Regions from separate parts of the Homo sapiens genome. Here all the other regions are linked to region 1. Evidence: fine-mapped QTL for protein levels in blood plasma. A gene starts in region 1. Each other region holds a variant in brackets. All regions are shown on one strand. Distances are from middle to middle. Region 1 holds the start of PZP (PZP alpha-2-macroglobulin like). Region 2 overlaps PZP (PZP alpha-2-macroglobulin like). Region 3 overlaps PZP (PZP alpha-2-macroglobulin like).

Evidence for each region. PIP is the chance, under the fine-mapping model, that this variant and not a neighbour inherited with it causes the effect. The UK Biobank Pharma Proteomics Project read protein levels with antibody pairs (Olink). The fine-mapping took linkage between variants from a reference panel, not from the people measured, so its PIPs are less certain.
Region 2: its variant is fine-mapped to the plasma level of the PZP protein (UK Biobank, PIP above 0.99). The variant lies in the coding sequence of PZP. If it changes the protein, the assay may bind it differently, which can mimic a change of level.
Region 3: its variant is fine-mapped to the plasma level of the PZP protein (UK Biobank, PIP 0.95).

The regions. Positions count from the first base shown.
Region 1 is chr12:9,204,628-9,212,816 of GRCh38, reverse strand. It overlaps PZP (PZP alpha-2-macroglobulin like), which reads left to right and starts at 4,422. Exons shown (of 36, transcript NM_002864.3): 1 at 4,422-4,558. The coding sequence starts at 4,476. It also overlaps a transcript of KLRG1 not described here.
Region 2 is chr12:9,161,165-9,169,353 of GRCh38, reverse strand. It overlaps PZP (PZP alpha-2-macroglobulin like), which reads left to right. Exons shown (of 36, transcript NM_002864.3): 17 at 380-485; 18 at 3,152-3,302; 19 at 3,987-4,215; 20 at 5,095-5,221; 21 at 5,565-5,686; 22 at 6,706-6,757. It also overlaps a transcript of KLRG1 not described here. Among named protein-coding and RNA genes, the nearest start is that of PZP, 43 kb to the left of the region's middle. The variant T/C (reference allele first, on the strand shown) is at 4,166.
Region 3 is chr12:9,185,839-9,194,027 of GRCh38, reverse strand. It overlaps PZP (PZP alpha-2-macroglobulin like), which reads left to right. Exons shown (of 36, transcript NM_002864.3): 12 at 1,289-1,516; 13 at 1,772-1,835. It also overlaps a transcript of KLRG1 not described here. Among named protein-coding and RNA genes, the nearest start is that of PZP, 18 kb to the left of the region's middle. The variant T/A (reference allele first, on the strand shown) is at 3,039.

The DNA.
Region 1 (8,189 bases):
TATGTAATGGGAATTTGTGTCCATTTAAAAATTGTAAAAAATAGCCAACTATGGAAAAAATTTACTGGTTTTTTTTTTCAGATTCAATGTTATAAATGAAGGAAATAATTTCCTTTCCTGCAAACTTTATTGCACATTCATTCAGATTTTCTCTTTCACTGTCCCATTTCACATTCTGGAAAAATCAGATATTTTAAGACAAAACTACTCTTTTCCTCATTTGGAAAACATTTGTCCTATTATCTTGCATAGACAGTTATGTTTTTTGTCACTACTGTTTCTACCATGGCCTCAACTATACATATTAGTTATAACATTTAATGAAAGAAAATAACTAACATAAAAAAACTAGAAAAGATGATTGGCTACTTTCTTTCTTATACAGTGAATCCTAAAATGGCCTTGAAATCTGGTACCAGCTCCTCTATGATGCAGTCTAAGAGCAGTCTTGCCCTCACAGGGACCTAATGGGAGAAATGCTCACAAGTGCCCTGGTAGGCTGAACTTGGTCCCACTGTGGATCTTAAAACAGCACTGTATACTGGCTCCAGGCCCTCTCATCTGTGATTTGAGAGCAGGCCTGCCCACTCAGGGACCCAGTGGGACACATGCCCATTCATGAACCCAGAGGCAGGCCTGAAGACCTGGGTCTCAGCTGTAGGCCCTGAGGCAGCCCTGTTACTTGGTTCTCTTTTCTCTCAGCTGCAATCTGGACCAGCACTGTCTGCCTAGGAACCTACCCAGTGACCCAGTAGGAGCCCTCCTAAGGACCCAGAGGAAGCCACATTCATCCACATATCTCGTAACTAGCCTACAATCTGTGGACTCTAAAGTAGACCCTCATCCCAGTGCCAGACCTACTGACCAAGGTCTAGGAGGCAGTCCAATTTACCCAGGGAACAGACAGAATCTAAGCCTACTAGAGCCCCAGTTAACAGGCCTGCCAACCACAGACCTCACTGTTGACCCAGCAAAACCATGTGACCTGGCTCTACCTCCAGTTGACCACAATTCTGGAAGCAATCTTGTCAATCCTGGGAACCCAACAGGAGGATCCTGAGGATCTTTACCTGTAAAACCAGTCTATAAAGATGGGAAAAGGTGTTTGCTCCTTCAGATGCATAGAAACCAATGCAAAGTTACACAGATAATGATGAACCAGGCAAACATAATACCACCAAAGGAAACCAATGAAGTTCCAGTAACTAATCTCCACCCCAAATGGAGATCTACAAATTTCCCCCCAAAATTCAAAATAATCATCTTAAAGATGCTCAGTAAGATGCAAGAAAACACAGATAGACAACTAAATAAAATTAGAAAAACAATGTATGAACAAAATGAGAAGTTTAATAAAGAAATAGAAACCATTAAGAAAAAACACACAAAAATTATATAAGAACAGAACTGAATATTTTAATGGAGAGCTTCAACAGCAAACACAGTCACACAAAAGAAAGAATTAGTAACTTGAAGACAGGTCATGTAAATAGTTAATTAAAGGTGAAAAAAGAAAAAAAATTAAAGAAGAGTGAAGAAAGTATAAGGGACCTATGGAATACCATCAAGCATGCAAATACACATATTATGGGAGTCCTAGAAGGAGAAAAGAGGGAAATGAGCAGAAAGCTTATTTAAAGGAATACTGGAAGAAAAATGTAAAAGCTAGAGTATTGGTGGCAATATGGGGATACGAAAATCCTCATGCACTACTGGTAGAATTGTGGTGTGATGCAACCATTCTGGAGAGTTATTTGTCACTATTTAGTCACTTAAGTACATGCCTCTCATACAACAATCTCACTCCTGTGTATGCGTCTTGCAAGAGGATTTACCTGTCTCAAAGGGTATATGTAAAAAGATATTTATCAAAGCATTATTTCCTCATGGCAGGACAATAGAGACAATCCTGTTTTTATCATTAGGAGAGTGGAAACATTAAACCTCTTGGATGATCACCAAAGAGGGCTATACTGTAATAAAATGCAATTAATAAAATACATACATATAAACATATAAACATGGGAGGATGTTTTAAAACTAGCAATAACTAAAAAGAATAAGAAACAGGCAAGGTCTTTTTCCAATACTCTTTATATAAAATAAAAATACACACTTAAGACTTTCCTTTCCAGTAATGGTATACAAGGTAATTGAGACCAAACTTCCCACTTAAATTAGGAATGGTTGGTTATATATATATTCACTGGAGGTATTGAAAAGCAAAGACTGTGAAGAATTATGAATCCAAAGTTCAGAAGCAACATAGCAACCCAAAGGGGCAATTCTGTGTTTAAGGGCACTTTCCCCTTAGGGTATTTAACAGCTCCAGAATATTTGGCTGAGAGATTTAGAAGCACATTTTAAAGCCTTTAGTAAATAAAATTGCAGCGTCTAGAGTCCAAGGCTCATGAAACTGGGGCAAGGAGATGTTCCTGATAGACCCTTTACATATTGTGTTGAGATATCAAACTGATGGTAGAATTCAAATGGTCCATAAACATATGAAAAGATGTGTAAAGTCATTAATAATGAAAATTAAGGCAAGATACTGCTTCACTCATCAGATTGATAAAAAGTAAAATGCCTAGCAGAGTAAAACGATGGTAAATATATAATAAACTGAAAATATCCACTGTTGCAGATGGGTATTCAAATCCATGTAATACTCTGAAGAGCAATTTACCAATCTGATAGATTTCAAGATGTACATACATATATAGCCTATAACCCAATCTCTGCTATATACCCTAGAGAAAGTCTTGCAAATATGCTTAAGTAGACATACCGTATTTGTAGCAGTATTATTTGTAATGTTGAAAACTATGAAGAATCCAAAATTCAGCACTAGGGGAATAGAGTAACAGGTTCGGCCACATTCATACAATAGAATGTCGTATAGATGGTCATTAAAATTAATAAATTTTATCCTCATTATCAATGCTAATAAGTCTTAAAACCATAATAGTGATGACATATTTTACAATATGTGCATACCACTTATACATATAAAATACAAAACACAAAATTATGCTATATATTATTTACATAAATATGGATTAAAAACATAAACACATCTTGAAGAATACATATCAACTTCCTAATCCCACAACATTGGAAGGGAAATGAGATTGGAGAGAATTACAAAGGAAACTCCAACCATATTTGTCTTGATTTATTTCTTTTTTTGGGTTGGTGGATCTGGTAAAAACTGGAAAAGCTTCTAGACAAATTTTAAAAGAGCACTACCATTGCCATCTTTCATTTCTTAAGAAGAAATGACCTTAAACAAACTTGGCAAGTGTTTAATTTTATTAAAGTTGGGTGCATGTAAGGTACGAGTGTCTTTTATCTTGCTCTCTATATTTGTGAGTATATATATATATAACATTTCATAATTTAAAAGAAATTATTTCATTCTATGATAATGTGACAAAAGAAACAAAGATGTGAAATAAAAACTAATAGGAAGGAATCCACTTTCAGCAGTGTGGCCAGGAATTTGCTCTCCAAAGAAGGGATGATTAGGCTGAAATATGGAGAAAGAGAAAGAAAGTTGATTTAAAAAGTTTCAAGCAATACAGTATGTAAACAGACACCAATGTCTGCAGTCTAAGGATGGCATTAAATCTGCTGGTGGTTTATATGTGATCATCATTGTACTACAAGTTCTATGAGAGCATGGATACTGAATATCCTGTTCAATATTGTATTTTCATCACCAGAATAGCACTTAGCACACAGTATGGCTCAAAAAAAAAATCTCAGATAAAGTCAATGACATGGTTTAAGGGACTCAAACGTTAGAGTGCTCAGACAGTAACAAGGACAGATAGGATCAACTAAGAATCTGATCAGGTCAATGCTGTGAAATAGACAAGTGTGATCTTTGATAACTCCTTTCTAAAATCTCTTTGATCTTTTATCTCTTTTATCTTTCATTGATCCTCTACTCTTGAAATCCTTATTTTATATCACTTTCTTCCAGGACCATGTACTCAATCAACTGCTAAAAAAGAAAACCCAAAAACCCTAAAGTCTATAGTTATAACTCACTCAGTCCCAGAAATGAATCTGCAATGCATGAGCTACTATCATGGTAACATGTCCCTGACATTCTTTGTCAGCATCCTTTGTCACCTGCTTGTAAGGATTTTGAAAGAGATGGAGAAAGGTAGGTTGAAGGTTCCTTATCAGGAGGTTTGCTGTCAAAGCTCATTCTAAATGGAATACAAATTTTATCTTCCAGACATGCCTCAGTACCTATCAGAATTTAGCCTTGAGAAAAATGAGGCAACCACTGAGAGTAATGACCCTTTTAGGGAATCTGTGCTCAATTCTGAACTCTATTCAGAGGCCTTGGGGTGGGGCTTGTTTGTACATAGTGGCCACATAAAGCCTGGTAAACTCAGCTGGTCTCCAGGGCGAGGCTGAGGGCAGAGAGTTGGACACAACCCTGAGATTTATCCCTCACAATGCGGAAAGACAGACTTCTTCATTTATGTCTTGTGCTACTTCTTATCCTGCTTTCTGCCAGTGACTCAAACTCTACAGAACCGTAAGTCTCACTCAAGACCCCTTCCTCCAGAGTGCGTTTCAGTCTCTCCCTTGTGTCTTCGCTTTGCCTTCCTTTGTAAATGCCACCTTTCCACTCATTACAATACCTTCCAAATATAAGAAATTATTCCAGTTAATCCCTTGTTTGTCTTTCATTTATCCTCTATTCTTGAAATCATTTTTTCTACACTGGGCCAATCAGAGTCATAAATACGATTAGTCACTAGGAAGCATGATTAAATAAAACACTAGATCCCAACTTCACAGAACAGTTCTTTTGGATGGAAGGCACTGAATATAGAGATATTCGAAATATATAGTGAAGTGCAACTTAACATGTATTGTAGGCCATATATATATATACAGAAAGTATAGCTCCTTTATTTTTCAATCATGTATCAAGTCTTCACCAACAGCCCCCAGTGGGGGACCAAAGCAGGGAAAATAATTTTAACCCTATCCAGTTGTAAGTTGGTACAACTCAATAATTGTAAGACTTCTTTTCCACCTCTCCCCAGTTCCTCTCCTCTATAGTGTCTAGAGAACTGTGGTCTCCATTAACTCCTAATAGAGAAAACTGTCAGAGTCCTTGGTCTCAAAGTTCTCCGTCCTTCTTGGCTACTGTCAGTCTGACTTCTCCTTACTTGCTGGCATGCACTGTTGAAGTTTAGCCATCTGGTTTCTCTTGTGTGTTCAGGACCCAACAGTCCTCTCTAACTGACTGTCTCACTTCAGCTGTTTCATATCCCATAGAACTCCTACCTTTGCATCCTGCCTCAAATACTATGGCTATTGTTTCAACACAGCCTGTGATGCAGGGTCACCTTGCCCCTTTGCAGTCCAGGCCATTTAAGGTCCCTGGCCTTAACCCAGCTGCCTTTACATTTCTTCCAGAGAATGGTGAGAACTCTTGGGTCCAATAATAGCACATAGGCACTGAGGTGTCCTGGAGAGGTTAAACTTCTACCTCTCTCTTGCATACCCACACTGCACTTCTAGATGCCTATCGTGTCTCCTGTATTCCAGACTGATACAGGGAAGTCTTCAGAGTCCCAAATCGGGAAAGGGATAAGGGGTCCCTCTGCTCTGTGTGTTACCCTTATCCATCTAACACAAATAGCCTTCTTCAGGCCAAAGCGCAGAAAGCAGAAATAAGGAGTTCAATCCAGTAAGTCTCCTGCTTTCCTCAGGCTTTTTCCTTGCACAATTTCCTGGCAACCGGTAGGGGTACATTTCTCCCCCACTATCCCTCTACCTCATCTACAGCAGTGGGCTCTACTACTTCCAGCTGCTCTCCATCCAGAAAGCATATGGGAATATGTGGAGGCTATTTTGCTTTCTGAGAGCAGACTGAATGGATAAAGCGAGTAGCGTGTATTGGGTCAGAAACATTAAGCAATTTGTGGTTCTGGATGCATTCCTACACTACATTGGACCATGCTGCCATTGAAACCATCCTTTTACGTTGTGTCTGCCACTGAACAAAGAACAACAAGCCTCATGCCCTAGTTGTCACAAGCAGAAGGGGTGTTTTCTCCCTTTATAAGGAGAAAACTTAACTTCATCCCTCCAGAATTAACCCTTGATGTGATAAATGTGAGAGACTACAAAAGAGAACCAATAGCCATTCTCCCCTGCCTTGGGGCAGTAAGCTTCAGAAAGATGAAGGTTTCAGGGGAATAAAATGAAAAAGAGAAAATTAAAAGTTATCACTTTAATATTTGCTACATTTAGTCCCTGCTAAAGAGGCAAATATTTAAAATGCAAACATTCATGATTGAGTAAACATATATTAAAACATTTTAGCAGCTCACTACCAATGACATCTTGGGCAAGTTTGTCAACCTGGATTTGTTCTGATTTCAATATCTGTTAAAAAAATATTAACTGAACTCATATAAAATAGTTCTTTAGAATATCAAATATATGTGGAATTAATTTTTAATCGTGATATCTTTTAGGCTTATAATTTATAAGAATAAAAATAGTAAATAAATTATAAATATATATATACCTTCTTATTAAGATCAAAGAACTAAAGGAAAAATTTTTTGATGGGGATGTAAAAAATGATACATTTTTATTATTTATTATGCTGTTAAAAGAGCAGTGATCAGGAGATCAGAAGCATCCAGATACCAGAAAAAGATTAAGACATAAGAGACTAGCTGAATGACTATCAGTGAGTTACTGAACTGCCCTCAGCTTCTCTGCTAGAGAACAAAACCTTACTACTCATACAGTAAAATCATCTGAAACTTGGATGATTTCAGAGTGGCCCTGGAGATTCATGGCATATAGTTTTGCCCAGGAACACTTTAAAACACATGTAGCAAGACTGGTGTGCTGGAGCAGACTACATGGAGGATGAGGGGACCAAATTTGAGTTCCACATTCCACAACTCAATTATCCTTGGATTCTCTCCTCCTAGTCTCACACCTATTAATTTTGTAAAGCAACAATATTGGGTTTCTTGTGTCAAATTGCCTGTCCAGAAAACAATTTAAAAAGTAAGAGTTTATGTTGGCAATGGAAAGTAAGGGTAGTAAAATAATATAAGAAAATAATAGTTTTTACTTGCAAATTTACTCTATAAATGGCCTAACCCTGCAGATATTGAATCATGAATCACTGAATCATTAAAGCTTTGAAGAGTTACATTTTAGTCACAATTTACTGATTTTACTGATTTGGCATGGGGGCAGGGATTTTATCTATCTGTTATGGATTCAAGTTTTGGGGACTGATGAGGATCTCATGTTTTAGCTTCCATGAACATGGAGAGTATCATGCATGTACCTTACAGCATTGCTGGGAAGATTAAATGGCTTAATACAGAGACAGCTTAACAATTCTTGTCATGTGGCAGATGCTCAAAAACAGCAACAACAAAAACACATTCTCTTTCAGCCCATGGGATTTCAGAGTGTGGAGAGATTATATTGAATTGGAGGCTTCTGGAAAGTGACAGGAAAATATGGAGTGGGGGGCATTAGAGACAAAGGACACTCATCAATAAAGCTAAGGCCAGAATGTGAGGCTTACACAAAAAATTGCCTGTGCCTCTGAAAAACTGAAAACTTTCAACAATTTAAATAAAAAAGAAAAGACTTTTCAAAATAATATGACTTTTAGTACTCATATAAACTTTGTTTTGTTTTTTTTTGAAACAGGGTCTCACTCTGTCACTCTGAAAGCACTGGTGCAATCATAGCTCACTGTAGCCTCAACCTCGTGGGCTTAAGTGATCCTTCTTGCCTCAGCCTCCTGAGTAACTGCTACTACAGCCATGTGCCACCTGGCTAAATTTTTTATTTTAATTTTTGTAGAGATGGGGGACCTCACAATGTTGTGCAGGCTGTTCTCAAACTCCTGGCCTCAAGTGACTCTCCTGCCTCAGCCTCCCAAAGTGCCGGGAACTAGGTATAAGCCACTTCTCCCAGCCTGAACCTGTTTGTTTTTTTTTATTGAAAAGATAACCTATCCACCCATGTGATTCGAAACAAACATGTTTATAAACATGGACATACTAATATTAAATTATTAATGTTAATTGCCTCAAGAAATTGAGCATAAAGGGAAATGATAATAAAATACAGTGTGTGTTTGTGTAGTGTGTGTGTAGCAGGGA
Region 2 (8,189 bases), 43 kb after region 1:
TCTTAGTAATTATGTAGCCTTGCCTCTCCATTTTTCAGCAGACAAAAATGAAGCCAATAAAAAGGTTAAAGTCTCTTGTGAGGATCACACAAAAGCTCAGTATGTGAGTCAGGGCTAGATCTAACCTCTGCCTATTCATCTGGATACTTTTTAGTTATATTTAGGTTTTTTTATTTGCAAACCAAAAAATAATGAATAAAGAATAAAATCTTAATAATCCATAAGTTTAGTAATTTCACTACTCTATATTTACTGTCAAGTGTTTCGCCATAGAATTAATATAAGGATACTGGAATTACATAGAGAAGTCTCTAAGGATAATATGTTTTATATATTCTAATCAAGCTTACAAGTAGATTGAACAATTATTTTTTTCCAGGGGATGGGATTGAAGGTGTTCACTAACTCAAAAATCCGAAAACCAAAGTCGTGTTCAGTCATCCCTTCCGTGTCTGCAGGAGCAGTAGGTCAAGGATACTATGGAGGTAAAACAGCAATTTGCTTTTAATTTTATTTCATGTCCAACAATATTACTATGCCCAAAATGCTAAAATGAGGTAATGTAGCCCTATTTCCACTTTATACACACAAAGAAACCAAGATTCAAATTAATTGTTTCTTGCTGAGGTGACTTAGCTGGTGATAGCTAGAACTGATCAGAGATTTTTTTTTAGATACATCCGATACTTCAGGGCACAAAATCAGATAAAATACAAGATTCTGATGTACTGTAAGAGAGGGAAAATGCTGACAATGGAAAGAAAGAGTAATTCTGATTATGGAAACAGGAAAGACATTCATAGGGATGCTGTATTTTAAAAAACATAAAGAAGGACAAAGGGCTTCACTGGTGACAAGAAACAACGTGAACATCACAGAAATATCTCATAATCCATGGCCAAAACCACTATTCAAATACAGCAGCCTTTTTCAACACCCTTGAACTTATTAAAACATCTGTCCCATCACCAGGTCTACTTACACTTGAACACTACCCAGCCATTTGTCATCCCTCTCTCATGAATCCAACTCCCTTTTTCTCCAAAATATCCCTGACATCCATCTGCTCACAAATATTTATATGCTCGGATTGGAAATCAGATATCCTATATGTGAAGTGGGTGTGTCATATCTCCTCTCTAAGCCTCAAATCCTTCATTAATAAATTGAAGGAATTTGACTAATGGCTCTTCAAGACCTTGCAAAACGCCCAATAAGATAACTAAATATAATGCACCAACACAAATTAAGAACTTTGATTGTTTAAATAGCATTTTCTATGTTCCTTGGCATTTAAGATTAATATCCATCTTTAAATGAGCTTTATTATTAAGAAAATGACACCTTTTAAAGGGCCATGGACTGTTTAAGTATACCTTCAATGATAGCACAAATTTCAAACAATTTCTCAAAAATGGTAAATATGATTTTGTCTTGTAACTGAGATGTTATATAAATAACGAGAATAAAGAATAAGGGAAAGGAAAATAGCCATGAGATTTACATAGAACAAACTTCAAGTTTAAACCATTGAGGTTTGGGGGGAAGGAAATGTTCTTGAATTTATTAAATTCAAGATGGAAAATTGACGGCATATAATAACACTCAGGAAAAAAAGAGCTTCTAAAATGTGTGATGAATACATAACAGGGATTGAAATTAGTAGCTATAAATGAATCAGGTATATGAGGAAATAAAAGAGCTAAGAAAACTGAAATATCTTGTGAAATTTCTTGATAAGAACTTCAACAACATGAAGCCATTTCCATGACTACAGAGAACAATGAAAAGCAGCAGGGGTGGAGGTGGGGGAGGGCAACGGAAGGAACCCCCACCCCCAGCCAAGGGAAGCGGTGAGTGATTGTGCGACCTCGCCTGGGAAATCACATTTCTCCCAAGGATCTCTGCAACCCATGGATCAGGAGATACCCTTGTGAGCCCATGCCACCAGGGTCTTGGGTCTGATACACAAAGCTTTGATGCAGAGACTATGAAAGGACACGTGGAAAGTCAAGTTGACAGTAAGAGTAGGAAGGATATAGCCATGGTCCACTAAATGGAGTTGAAATAACACATAATGCCATGGTTTGTTAACTGCAATAACTGGAGGAGTTGGAGGGCCCTTGACATATCCAGTAGAAAATGGAAAATAGTTCATTTAGGTGCATCATCCTTTTAGATATTTCAATATTTAAGATAAGAGTGAAGACAGAGAAGACAAAACAGTGAGAAATCAGAGTCAGAGATAGAAATTGTTACCACTTGGAAGGACATGGGGCAAGGTGTATGATATTCACTAAAGAAATTACTACTGATGCTTTCTTCAGTGGAGAAAACTGTTAGGGTGAAATTGCTAGAAATATATTTTTCCTTGTAAGTATTCTTTCACAAGGTATTTCTGAAATATCAGATGGGATACATGGAGGGAGATCTTAAATCAAATTCAATTAGTAAGCATGATTTCAGGCACAACGTGGACAAAATTGCTTTCATGTCTAGCTCTCCACCCTCTCACGTTGGTAAATGATTTCTTTGTCTGAACCACACAGCCATTCCAAATGGAAATATCTGTTTTTGACAACTGAATTGTTTATTTCAGATGTCAAAAAATAAGTGGAATAAAATCTAATGCTCTAATCTTATTTCCCAGAGAACAACAGTTTTGCAAAGTTCCATACAGTGATTTAAAGTAAATTTAATTTATGTAAAAGTAATTTAATGTAAATCATTAAATTCTGTTCACTCCACTGGTAATTTCATTTTTAGTATAGCAACCACTCTCAATGTCTAAAGAGCATTTTACAATTCCTGCTCAGTTTCTCTAAGAATGAAGCAATACTGTCTCAATTTCAAAATTGGTCCTTCGCCACAAAACCCATAAAACTGTCTCCAAGTGATCTCGTTTTTCCAGCTTCCATTCACATCAAATTATGCTATGTCTAGGATACATAGAATTTCCACCTTTGACAAAGACTCCTCTCTTTTCAGGGAATGAGGGATCACAAAGTATTTCCCAAGTTCTACAACTTCTACAAGACTTTTAGGACAGTCTGAGCAGGAAAACTGAAAATTTTGTTCTCTAACGTCTCACATGTGCACCATGAAATTAATGAATGTTTTTCCCTAACTAGACAATTTTCTCTTACTTTAGCAGGTCTAGGAGTAGTAGAGAGACCATATGTTCCTCAATTAGGCACATATAATGTGATACCCTTAAATAATGAACAAAGTTCAGGGCCAGTCCCTGAAACGGTGCGAAGCTATTTTCCTGAGACTTGGATCTGGGAGTTGGTGGCAGTGAAGTAAGTAACTTTACTTTCCTCCATTTGCTGGAGGGGAGGGAATGTGGTTCCTCCAACATTTTCAATTCTAAGACAATCTTCCTGAAAAGTTCTGAATAATTATCTTAACCTCTTCCTCTTTAGGATAGACCTAAGTAAAATGCGCAATTGCATAGGCTCATTAATACAATTGTCTCAGTGCTGAGCAATTCTAAAATAATTATTTCTGATACTGTCAAATAGTAGACATGAGAACTATAAATATTCAGTTCTATATATACTGCTTAATGTCGTTCAGGGAGCCTTCTGTAAATATCAGGGCTGGAGCAGGCACATAAACAAATCAGGCTACATTAATCCAGTGGTCTAATTGTTGGTCATGATTCTTAAAAATGCTTATTTATGGGATTATACAATAGCAAGGGAAGTTAAGGACTAAAATGAATCGCAATTCAAATATTTTTATTCAAAGTACAGACATGTGGGATATGATCATTTGTTGATAAGGGGGAGAGGTACCATTCAGTGGCTTTCATTTTCCCAACTCAGATCCCAGGACATAATCTAGTGTTCACACGAATGCACACTCGCATATACCCTTAAGTGGATTCAGTTCTTGACGTTAGCTTTATGCATATTAATTCTCACTTGAGAAAAGGTGGCTTACATTCATTATTTCTGTTCTTCACTTGCCCTCCTCCCCAGCTCATCAGGTGTGGCTGAGGTAGGAGTAACAGTCCCTGACACCATCACCGAGTGGAAGGCAGGGGCCTTCTGCCTGTCCGAAGATGCTGGACTTGGTATCTCTTCCACTGCCTCTCTCCGAGCCTTCCAGCCCTTCTTTGTGGAGCTCACAATGCCTTACTCTGTGATTCGTGGAGAGG[T/C]CTTCACACTCAAGGCCACGGTCCTAAACTACCTTCCCAAATGCATCCGGGTAAGGAAAATGAGGGTGAACAGGAAAGGTGGGTAGAACAAAAGATTCCTTTGATCAGTCAGCTACTGATTCTGTTCCTGAGACTAAGGATAATTCAAGGGATTGTGTGTTAGCACTGTGAATAATTAGTGCTATGCAAAGCAGGACATGATCAGAAAGATAATACAATGATATATGTGCTATGGGTGCTTAAATCACGGCTCTCTAAGCCACACCTTGCTTTTCTATTTCTTAGCGCTTGCAGAATTCTTTGCTGCAAGTTAGGTTATATGCCAGGAACATTCTTGAAGCTGACACACAACTCAGCTTTCTCAGTTCCACGAGAGTCATTCTCCAACCCGTCATCTTGAAATCTCCAAAATATATAATTTTAATTTATCTTATAGCACTTATCTCTTTGTAAATTATGTAATAGTGGTTGTATATAGATCATCTTTCTTGTGACACAATATCCTCAAGATCGGGAGCCTCTCATCTACCATTCCCAGTGTTTTATGTCTTGTATGGATTAGACATGTAATATATGTTGTAAGAAATAGGAGAAGAAAGGAAGGAAGAAACTATGAAAATCTACATAGCAGCAGATAGTATTCCCTAGGGCAATATACAATCACTGCTTTTCCCTTTCCTCTGCCACTGCCAAGCCTGCACGTCCACAAGCTACCCTAAGGCAAATGCCAAATCCTCCTAATACACAACCAATCTTGATTTGTATCATTGCCATTGCCATGCTTCTTAAAGCATGGATGAATCTATGTGACATACATTTTTCTTACAAATCCCAATTTACTGCAGCATCTCACACTTGGCCCCAATTCTATGTGTTCGTGTCGTTCCATATTCTGATCATTTCTGTCTCTGCCTCACATGGGGTGATAGGTCAGTGTGCAGCTGAAAGCCTCTCCAGCCTTCCTAGCTTCCCAAAATACAAAGGGAGAAGAATCCTATTGTATCTGTGGAAATGAGAGACAAACCTTGTCTTGGACAGTGACTCCTAAAACTCTGGGTGAGTGACAGTACCCAAAAGGGCCTATCAATCAACAAGGACGGTGGCTGTCTGAGTACTTTTTTCATCATATTCTCTCTTTTATTTGCCATAGATATAATTCTATAAAGTTAGTTTTTTTTCCTATTTCTATCCACTATGACCTCCTCCCACTGTTCTCACCCAAGCTAGTCCCCAGAATCACTATCTTGGACATTGGCTACTTAGTATACATTAACCTTGTGGGTTTCTTTTTTTTTAGCCTTATTTTCTATTCTGGACAACTATAAGTTTAAGGTGCAGCCCTTAAAGGTGATTGGACTATCAAAGTGGATACTCATGTTTTCAATATTCCTTGTTTTAGGGAATGTGAACTTCTCAGTGAGTGCAGAGGCAATGCAGTCCTTAGAACTCTGTGGAAATGAGGTTGTTGAGGTCCCTGAGATTAAAAGAAAAGACACAGTCATCAAAACCCTGTTGGTGGAGGTAACATATTTTTGGGAGTCCCTAACAACTGTAAGAATGCAACACCGGGCGGTCACTCTTGAGACAACAAAGAACCATTAATATCATGCTCACACAATACATCCTGTAAGACTAATGGAATTTCCTGCCCTAAAAGCATTGCAGCAGACAACATTGCCAGCTATTGTAAATTTTTTTTCACAAATTATTTGAGTGCAATTTCCTTTTTTTTTTTTGAGACGGAGTTTTGCTCTGTTGCACAGGCTGAAGTGCAGTGTTGCGATCTCGGCTCACTGAAAGCTCTGCCTCCCGGGTTCATGCCATTCTCCTGCCTCAGCCTCCCGAGTAGCTGGGACTACAGGCGCCTGGCTAATTTTTTTTTTTTTTTTTTTGTATTTTTAGTAGAGACGGGGTTTCACCATGTTAGCCAGGATGGTCTCAATCTCCTGACCTCGTGATCCTCCCTTCTCGGCCTCCCAAAGTGCTGGGATTACATTGAGCGCAATTTCTTGATCTCCACCTCTCTCCTAAGATTCACATATCTCTCATACCCATTAGCTTTGATTTACTGCCCTTATTATCTCTTCCCATTTTCTCTCTACCACCCTCCCTGGTTCTTCAATGTTTTATGGATTTGTAATAATTCAATAACAAGTAGGATGTTATGTTCTCACTTATAAGTGGGAGCTGAATGATGCAAACACATAGACACATGGAGGCGAGCAACATATATGGGGCCTGTCTGAGAGTGGGAGTGACAGAAGGGAGAGCATCAGGAAGAATAGCTAGTGGATGCTGGGCTTAATCCCTAGGTGATGGGATGATCTGTGCAGCAAACCACCATGGCACACATTTACCTATGTAACAAACCTGCACCTCCTGCACATGTCCCCTTGAACTTAAAACAAAAGTTGGGAAAAAAAGAGTAGGATGGTAAACATCATTCGTGTAAACCCTACCCATCAAAGAAAGGAATCCATGTGGTTCTCTTGTCACCAGGATGTTTCTATCTTTTCTCCTTTTCTTTCCTTTCATCCAAGGCTGAAGGTATTGAGCAAGAAAAGACTTTCAGTTCTATGACCTGTGCCTCAGGTAAGAGTCCATCTTCATAATCATAGTGAGATCAAAACCACAAAGGGGTATAAACCTCAAGTTACAATGCACATTCATTTTATCTCCCAGTTTTCAGAGTGTTCCATGAAAGTCAGCATAATACTAAATATTTCTTTATGTATGTTTTACAGATGAAGACATTGAGCCCAAGAGAGCAAGTTAATGTGACTCAGGTGGTACAGACAGGACTAATACCTGGGCTTTCTTGGTTCATACGTAGCCCTTTTACCTGGATAGCCCAGTGGCTGCTCACTGACAAGCCCAGCTGCAGAAGCTTAGAGTGTCCCAGGATGAGGTAGAAAGAGAGCAGGGTTAGCCGGGTGTGGTGGCTCACATTTGTAATCCCAGCATTTTGGGAGGCTGAGGCGGGAGGATGACTTGAGGTCAGGGGTTTGAGAACAGCCTGGCCAACATGGTGAAACCCTGTCTCTACGAAAAAAACAAAAATTAGCCAGGCCTGGTGGCGGGCGCCTGTAGTCCCAGCTACATGGGGGGCTGGGGCACGAGAATCGCTTGAGCCGGGCAGGGGGAGGTTGCAGTGAGCCGAAATCACACCACTGCGCTCCAACCTGGGCAACAGAGTGAGACTCTTAAAAAAACAAACAAGCAAACAACAACAACAACAAAAACTAAAGACAGCAGGGTCATGATAAGTTTGAATCCCAAGAGATAGTCTCTAAAACAGCTGCTGACAAAACATATAGCATTTCCTACCCATCTCACTAAAAATGTGTGTTTTCCGTGTAGAAAATAATTTACATTTAAGTTCATCATATCATTAAGAAGTAGTTGTAGCTTTTATACAGAACCGCCACATTATTAGTTCTATGTCCACAGTGTATACAGCACTGTATTTGTCATTTGAGAAGGACTAATTTAAGGTATATTCATGTTATCTATTTATAAACATGGGAATCCATTCAAATATAGTGTAAGGGAGGCAGTAAAATAACTTGTATTATCATGGTTATAAGTCTTAATATTGCTACAAAAGTGGAGAGCGATAGTTCCCCCACTAAGTCTTAGGCTTCTTTTAGAAAGCTACTGAGCACAGCCATGCAAAAATATAGTTAAATGAGAAGAGGAAGGACTCTGGAAGTCACACAGTGCCAAAAGCAATTAGACTATCAAAGGTAGTCTCATCATTAAGTCAAATTCTTATTCCTTGCACCCAGAGTTCCACAAGGAGATATAATAATATTACTGCTAACTCTAATAATAAAATAACTGCAATAATAACAATTGCTCACATTCGTTGAAATTGAATATGTTGCAGATACTGTTCTGAATGTTTTACATGTGTTTTTTCCTCAAATCATCACAATTTACCCAAGGTCACAAAGCAGGGCCAGTACCATATCCAGGGAGTGTGGCTCTGAAGCTCTCACTACATTATAATCACTAAATTATA
Region 3 (8,189 bases), 19 kb after region 1:
GTGATATATTCAGAAGAAATGTACAGATTGCATTTAAGAGTAAGAAATAAGAAGATATCTAACTTTGAGTTTACAAATTTGAGGATAATAGAATTTCATGAAAAACAATAAAGGCATTAGAAAAGGCACTGCAGAAGTGCCTGATAATTTCACTATCATTATCTGTAACATTTTATATAGTATGAAAAAAATCTTATTTGATTTGGGTCGTGAACAATATCAGCTGCTTCAGTAATTCATGTACTTTGTTTTATGTTATTTTTTCCAGGTCACTTAGAAATTTTGTAAAGTGATCACACACACACACACTTAATATACACTGTCTAATGACGATGATCAAAAGATTTCCCTAGCTAAAAAGTTTTCATGCTTGTTATCTCAAAGAAGTGATAAAAGACTATAATTTATGGATTTCAGTGTCAATAAATAACATATACATTATTTCTGTTTCTCAGTTTCACGTGTTAACTCAGTTTAAAAACATGTAATGATGTTTAATGTTTTCTATGTGATAGACACTCACTCTCCCTAGGATTTAAAAGGTGACTAAATAGTGTCCCTACACTTTAAAATTTCCTATTTTCATGGAGTTAAAAGATCTGTAAATTATTAGTATGATGTGTTTATGCGCAAAAGGTTTTTTTAAATAGGAACTTTATTATGAGACCAAATAGAAGAGTCCACAAAATATGCCTAATAAATTTAGAAAAAAATAAGTGCACTTTGAAGAAAAGCTAAGGAGCAGTTACCACAAGGGAAATAGAATTGTGCGCAAAACATTATCTGCAAGGCTTAAAGTTTCAGAAATCACATAGGTCTTAAAGGTTGGAAGTCACAATAATGATAAGAGGCATAAATGCTAATTTACTAAGGATTACTAAAAACAATTTTGAAGCTCATAAGGTAATAGAATGTTTTATTAATACAAACCCTAATTTTAATTAAGCCAATTCATGAGGTAATTCTAATATCTGAAAAATCCCTTTTCCACTTGTTTGAGTTATTTATCATTCTCATTTTTCCTCTAGTTCTGAGGGGCAGGAGGAAAATGTCAAAGTAGTAATGAGTTAGCAGAATCAGGGCAAAAGAGATAAATTTGTGGATGATTTCCTTTTAATATTTGAATGTTGGGAGACTGAAAATTCATTTATTTGGCTGTCGACCAGTATGAGGGAGAGGCATAGTGTATTTTAGAGTGGAAGACACCGTTGTAACTATTCATTTTGGTGAGAAGCTAAGGTGAAGAATTTCAAGACAGTATTCTTTCTTTGCTTTTCTGTTTACTCAGGTTTTCACTGTGCATCCCAACTTGTGTTTTCACTATTCATGGGTAGCAGAAGACCACCAGGGTGCTCAGCACACTGCAAATCGTGTTTTCTCCTTAAGTGGAAGTTACATTCACCTGGAGCCTGTGGCTGGTACCCTGCCCTGTGGCCACACGGAGACTATCACGGCACACTATACACTGAATAGACAGGCCATGGGAGAGTTATCGGAGCTCAGTTTCCATTACCTGGTAAGAATGAGGCCATGGAATACAATTGCAGCTTATCAGTAGGACAAAAGTGGTCAATAGGCTCAGGAATGTCAAAATAAACTACTTGCACACAGCCACCTTGTGTTCTTGTTGTGCGTCCTTCATTCCATGAGTTTTCTTGAGGTTGATTCTCTCCAGCACAGACTTGACAACTGAAAGTGGGTCATGTGGGGAATAGAAGGCTGAGAACTGTGTCCAGCTCAAGAAATTTCCTTCACTGTTTTTTCATTTCAGATCATGGCTAAGGGAGTCATCGTCAGATCTGGAACCCACACTCTGCCTGTGGAGTCAGGAGACAGTGAGTATCCTCAGATTCATCTCTCCTTGCTCCCCTAACACATCCTTACCCTTCCCTCGGTGACAGTTCATAAATGGGAAATCGTTTCCATCATCCCTTCACAATAAGGAGGACACGCAGGAAAATACTCGTCTTATGACTCTTTGGCATTTTAAAATTCAACAGTCAACAGATAAATGTGATTGTCTACTCTGTATCAGTCACTCTGCTAAGGTACACTAGTTTTTCACTTTAGTTTGTTTCTTCTAACAGCAAAACAAAGCTCTTTTCAAAATCTAAGCTGCCTTCTATTTATCTCCACCCCCAATAAAGTGTACATTGATTAAATTAACATTGCAGAGAAGAAAAAAGTAATTATCATGGGAAATGGGAAGGAAGAAAGGTGATAGATTTTTTTTTCTTGTGCCAGGCCATGAGTACTTTATATACGAAATTGGATTCACTTCAAGAATAAATTGAGGCCTGGGGAACCAAGATCGTTTTCTATTCTAAGTCAAATAATCTAGAGGTTAAACCACTGAAAAGAGAACCCGTGAACATTTTTGTAATTAACCTAAACTAAGGGAAACATTTTACCAATTTCCACCACACCCCTAAGCTAAACTTAATAACCATTAGGATTTGCTCCATGCCTAATATTTTCTATTTATGTAGTTTCTCTTCCTGCTAAGCTGGAAAAATTAAATATTAATTTTTAATTTTTATTTTTCAGTTTTGAAAATTGAAACAATTTTGAGAAAGTTAAAATTTATGCATTATTAATCAGTACTCTAATAATTAATAATTATTTTAATTAAACATTAAAAACTGCTGCCAGTTTTGAATATCAGTTTTTTCCCAATACTAGTGTAGAGGTAGTTAGATATGGAGAATGGACCCCACTGTGTACATTGTTCTTCAATTTTTGTTGAATAATTTTCTTCTAATACTGGTCTATGTATCACATTCACAGAAATAATCAAAGGTTTTAAAACATTTATTTGATTTTTTCTTTTATAATATTCCAATTTGAATTTTATTCATAACAGGAAGAGTCTGTATGAAAATCTCTATATAGTAAAATGAGGACTAGTTATTTAATCATTTACTTTGTGAAGATGCCACAAAATTTTATTGAAAGTAGCTGAGTCAACAATTGGAAAAAATTTCTCTATATAGCTAATTAAATCATAATTGTTTCATCATAAAACAATTTTAACCACA[T/A]ATTTTAATAGTTATTAATTACCGATTTACTCTTCACCAAAGAATTATCAAAAGCACTTACACCTCTATGATAAAAGAACAAATTTTATTCACAATTTGTCTAAATTCAACTTTTTAAAACTTTTCAAATTGTCCAAGTTGAGCTTCCTCATATTGTTCTCTTTTCACACTATTCTTCATACTGTCCAAATTATTATTACCTAAATTATTTGCCTATTTAATTTTCAGAATTGAGATTTTAAATAATGAAATCTTCTCAAATTTTATTATTTATTATTATGTTTAAAACTTTTATTTTAGGTTTGAAGGGTTCATGTTCAGGTTTGTTATGTAGGTAAACTCGTGTCATGGGGTTTGTTGTACAGATTATTTCGTTACCCAGGTTCTAAGCCTACTACCCAATAATTATTTTTTCTGATCCTCTTTCTCCACCTACCCTCCACCCTCCAATAGGCCTCAATGTCTTCTGCTCTCCCTCCTCCCGCCCTCCACCCTCAGATAGGCCCCACTGTGTGTTGTCCTCTTTGTATCCATTATGTTCTCATCATTTAGCTCCCACTTATAACTGAGCACATGGAATATTTGGTTTTCTGTTCCTACATTATTTTGCTAAGAATGATAGCTTCTAGCTCCATGTATGCTCCTGCAAAGGACATGATGGCGTTCTTTTTTATGGCTGCATAGTTCCATGGTGTGTATGTACCACATTTTCTTTATTCAGTCTTCCACTGATGGGCATTTAGGTTGATTCCATGTCTTTGCTACTGTTCATTGCAACAGGGTTGCAATGAACATATGTGTGCATGTGTCTTTATGACAGAACAATTTATATTCCTTTGGATATATACCCAGTACTGGGATTCTTGGGTCAAATGATAGTTCTGTTTTTAGCTCTTTGAGGAATCGCCACACTGCTTTCCATAATGGCTGAACTAATTTACATTCCCACCAAGAGTGTATAAGCATTCCCTTTTCTCCACAACCTTGCCAACATCTGTTATTTTTTGACTCTTAATAATAGCCATTCTGACTGATGTGAGATGATAATCTCATTGTGGTTTTGAGTTGCATTTCTCTAATATTCAGTAGTATTGAGCTTTTTTTCATTGGCTTGTTGGCCACATGTATATCTTCTTTTGAAAAGTGTTTATTCCTGTCCTTTGCCCACTTTTTAATGTGGTGGTTTGTTTTTTCCTTGTAAATGTGTTTAAATTCTATACAGATGCTAGATATTAGACCTTTATTGGATGCATAGATTGCAAAAGTTTTCTCTCATTCTCTAAGTTGTCTGTTTACTCTATTGATAGTTTCTTTTGCTGTGCAGAAGCTCTTTAGGTTAATTAGATCCCATTTGTCAATGTTTGCATTTGTTGAGATTGTTTTTAGTGTCTTCTTCATGAAATCTTTGCAGTTCCTGTGTCCAGAATGGTATTGCCTAGGTTGTCTTCCAGAGTTTGTATACTTTTTGGTTTTACATTTAAGTCTTTAACCAATCTTGAGTTGATTTTTGTGCATTGTGTAAGGCGGGGATCCAGTTTCAATCTTCTGCCTATGGCTAGCCAGTTATCTCAGCACCATTTATTGAATAGGGAGTCCTTTCCTTGTGTTTGTTAGCTTTGTTGAAGATCAGATGGTTGTGGGTGTGCAGCATTATTTATGGTCTCTGCATTCTGTCCCATTGATTTGTGTGTCTGTTTTTGTACAAGTACTATGCTGTTTTGGTAACTGTAGCCCTGTAGTATAGTTTGAAGTTGGGTGGTGTGATGCCTCCTCCTTTCTTCTTTTTGCTTAGGATTGCCTTGGCTATTTGGGCTCTTTTTTTAGTTCCATATACATTTTTAAATAGTTTTATCTAGGTCTGTGAAGGATGTCGTTGGTAGTTTTATAGGAAAAACATTAAATCTATAAATTGCTTTGGGCAATATGACCATTTTCATGATATTGATTCTTCCTATCTATGAGCATGGAATATTTTTTCCATTTGCATCATCTCTGATTTCTTTGAGCAGTGTTTTGTAATTCTCATTGTAGAGATCTTTGGGCAATATGACCATTTTCATACTGATTCTTCCTATCTATGAGCATGGAATATTTTTCCATTTGTTTGTGTCATCTCTGATTTCTTTGAGCGGTGTTTTATAATTCTCATTGTATAGATCTTTCACCTCCCTGGTTAGCTATATTTCTAGGTATTTTATTCTTTCTGTGACAATTGTGAATGGGATTGCTTGCATTCCTGATTTGGCTTTTGGCTTGACTGTTGTTGGTGTATAGGAATGCTAGTAATTTTTGTACATTGATTTTGTATCCTGAAATTTTGCTAACATCATTTTTCAGCTTAAGGAGCTTTGGGGCCAACACTATGGGGTTTTCTAGATATAAAATCATGTCGTCTGCAAACAGGGATAGTTTGACTTCCTCTCTTCCTATGCTGATGCCCTTTATTTCTTTGTCTTGCCCGATTGTTCTGGTGAGGACTTCCAATACTGTGTTCAATAGGAGTGGTGAGAGAGGACATCCTTGTCTTGTGCCAGTTTTTAAGGAGAATGCTTCCAGCTTTTGCCCATTCAGTATGATGTTGGCCATGGGTTTGTCATAGATGGCTGTTATTATTTTGAGGTATGTTCTTTCAATATCTAGTTTATTGGGAGTTTTTAACATGAAGAGGTGTTGAATTTTACTAAAATCCTTTTCTACATCTGATAAGATAATCGTATTTTTGTCATTGGTTCTGTTTATATGAATGAATCACATTTATTGATATGCCTATGTTGAACCAACCTTGCATCCCAGGGATGAAGTCTACTTGATCGCGGTAGCTAAGCTTTTTGATGTGCTGCTGGATTCAGTTTACCAGTATTTTATTGAGGATTTTCGCATCAATGTTCATCAGGAATATTGGTTTGCAAATATTTTGTTGAGGATTTTTGCATCAATGTTCATCAAGGACGTTTGGCCAGACTATTTTTTATGTGAGTCCCACTTCTCCTCATGGGGGCAACCCCACAACCTGGGACTGCAGCCACCACCACCCCACCCCCATCAGGGTTTTCAGGCTGGTAGCAACTTTACATTTCCCTGGGACGGAGCTCACAGAGGGTGAGGCTGGCTGCCATTTTTTCCATCTTGAAGCTTCCGTTGCTGTAACTTTCAGGTTCCGAAGAGCAAGTAGTGATTAGGGTGTAGCATGGATCACCTGCACAGCACAGCTGACCCACTAGTTCTTTCAGTTGTGATGTGAGGTTAAGTTGAGATCTTTCTAACTTTTCGATGTGGATGTTTAGTGCTATAAGTTTCCCTCTTAACACCGCCTTAGCTGTGTCCCAGAAATTCTGGTGTGTTGTATCTTTGTTCTTACTGGTTTCAAAGAACTTCCTGATTTCTGCCAAAATTTCATTATTTACCCAAAAGTCATGCAGGAGCAGGTTGTTTAATTTCTATGTAATTGTATGGTTTTGAGTGATTTTCTTCTTATTGAATTCTATTTTAATCACATGGTAGTCCGAGAGTGTGGAGTGTATGATTTCATTTTTCTAAATTTGCTGAGGATAGTTTTATGTCTGATTGTGTGATCGGTTTTAGAGTAGTGCCGTGTGCAGTTGAGAAGAATGTATGTGTTGTTGTTTTGTAGTGGATAGTTTTGTAGATGTCTATCAGATCCATTTGGGTCCTGTGCTGAGTTCAGATCCTAAATTTCTGCCTTGATGATCTGTCTAATACTGTCTGTGGAGTGTTGAAGTTTCTCAATATTATTGTGTGGGAGTCTGAGTCTCTTTGAAGGTCTCTAAGCACTTGTTTTATGAATCTGGGTGCTCCTGTGTTGGGTGCATGTAGATTTTGTTTAGTTAGGTCTTCTCATTGAATTAAACCCTTTACCATTATGCAATTCTCTTGTCTTTTTTTTTTTTTTTTGACCTTTCTTGGTTTAAAGTCTGTTTTGTCTGAAATTAGTATTGCAACCCCTGCTTTTCTCTTTTTCTTTTTTTTTAAATTATACTTTAAGTTCTGGGATACATGGGCAGAACGTGCAGGTTTGTTACATAGGTGTACATGTGCCATGGTGGTTTGCTGCACCCATCAGCCTGTCATCTATATTAGGTATTTCTCCTAATGCTATCCCTCCCCCAGCCCCCCACCCCCGACAGGCCCCAGTGTGTGATGTTCCCCTCCCTGTGTCCATGTGTTCTCATTTTTCAACTTCCACTTATGAGTGAGAACATGTGGTGTTTGGTTTTCTGTTCTTGTGTTAGTTTGCTGAGAATGACAGTTTCCAGCTTCATCCATGTCCCTGGAAAGGACATGAACTCATCCTTTTTTATGGCTGCATAGTATTCCATGGTGTATATGTGCCACATTTTCTTTATCCAGTCTATCATTGATGGGCATGTGGCAACCCCTGCTTTTTTCTATTTTCCATTTGCTTGACAGATTTTTCTCCTTTCCTTTATCTCGAGCCTATCAGTGTCATTGCATGTGAGATGGGTCTCTTAAAGACGGCATACCACTGAGTCTTGCTTCTTCATCTGGCTTGCCACTCTGTGCCTCTTAATTGGGGCATTTAGTCTGTTTACATTAGAGGTTAATATTGAGATGCGTGAATTTGAATCTGCCATCATGTTGTTAGCTGTTTGTCAACTTGTTTGTGTAACTGCTCTATAGTGTCACTGGTCTGTGTACTTCAGTGTGGTTATGTAGTGGCTCGTAATATTCTTTCCTTTTTATATTCAGTGCTTCTTTCTGGAGCTCTTGCAAGTTGGATCTGGTGGTAACAAATTCCCTCAGCATTTCCTTGTCTGAGAAGCATCTTATTTCTCCTTCACTTATGAAGTTTAGTTTGGCTAGATATGAAATTCTTGGTTGGAATTTATTTTCTTTAAGAATGTTGGCCAGGTGCAGTGGCTCATACCTGTAATCCCAGCACTTTGGGGGGTCAAGGTGGTCAGATCATGAAGTCAGGAGATCGAGACCATCCTGGCCAACATGGTGAAACCCCATCTCTACTAAAAATACAAAAATTAGCCAGGTGTGATGGTGCACGCCTGTAGTCCCAGCTACTCGGGAGGCTGAGGCAGGAGAACTGTTTGAACCTGGGAGGTGGGGGTTGCAGTGAGCCGAGATCATGCCACTGCACTCCAGCCTGGTGACAGAGTG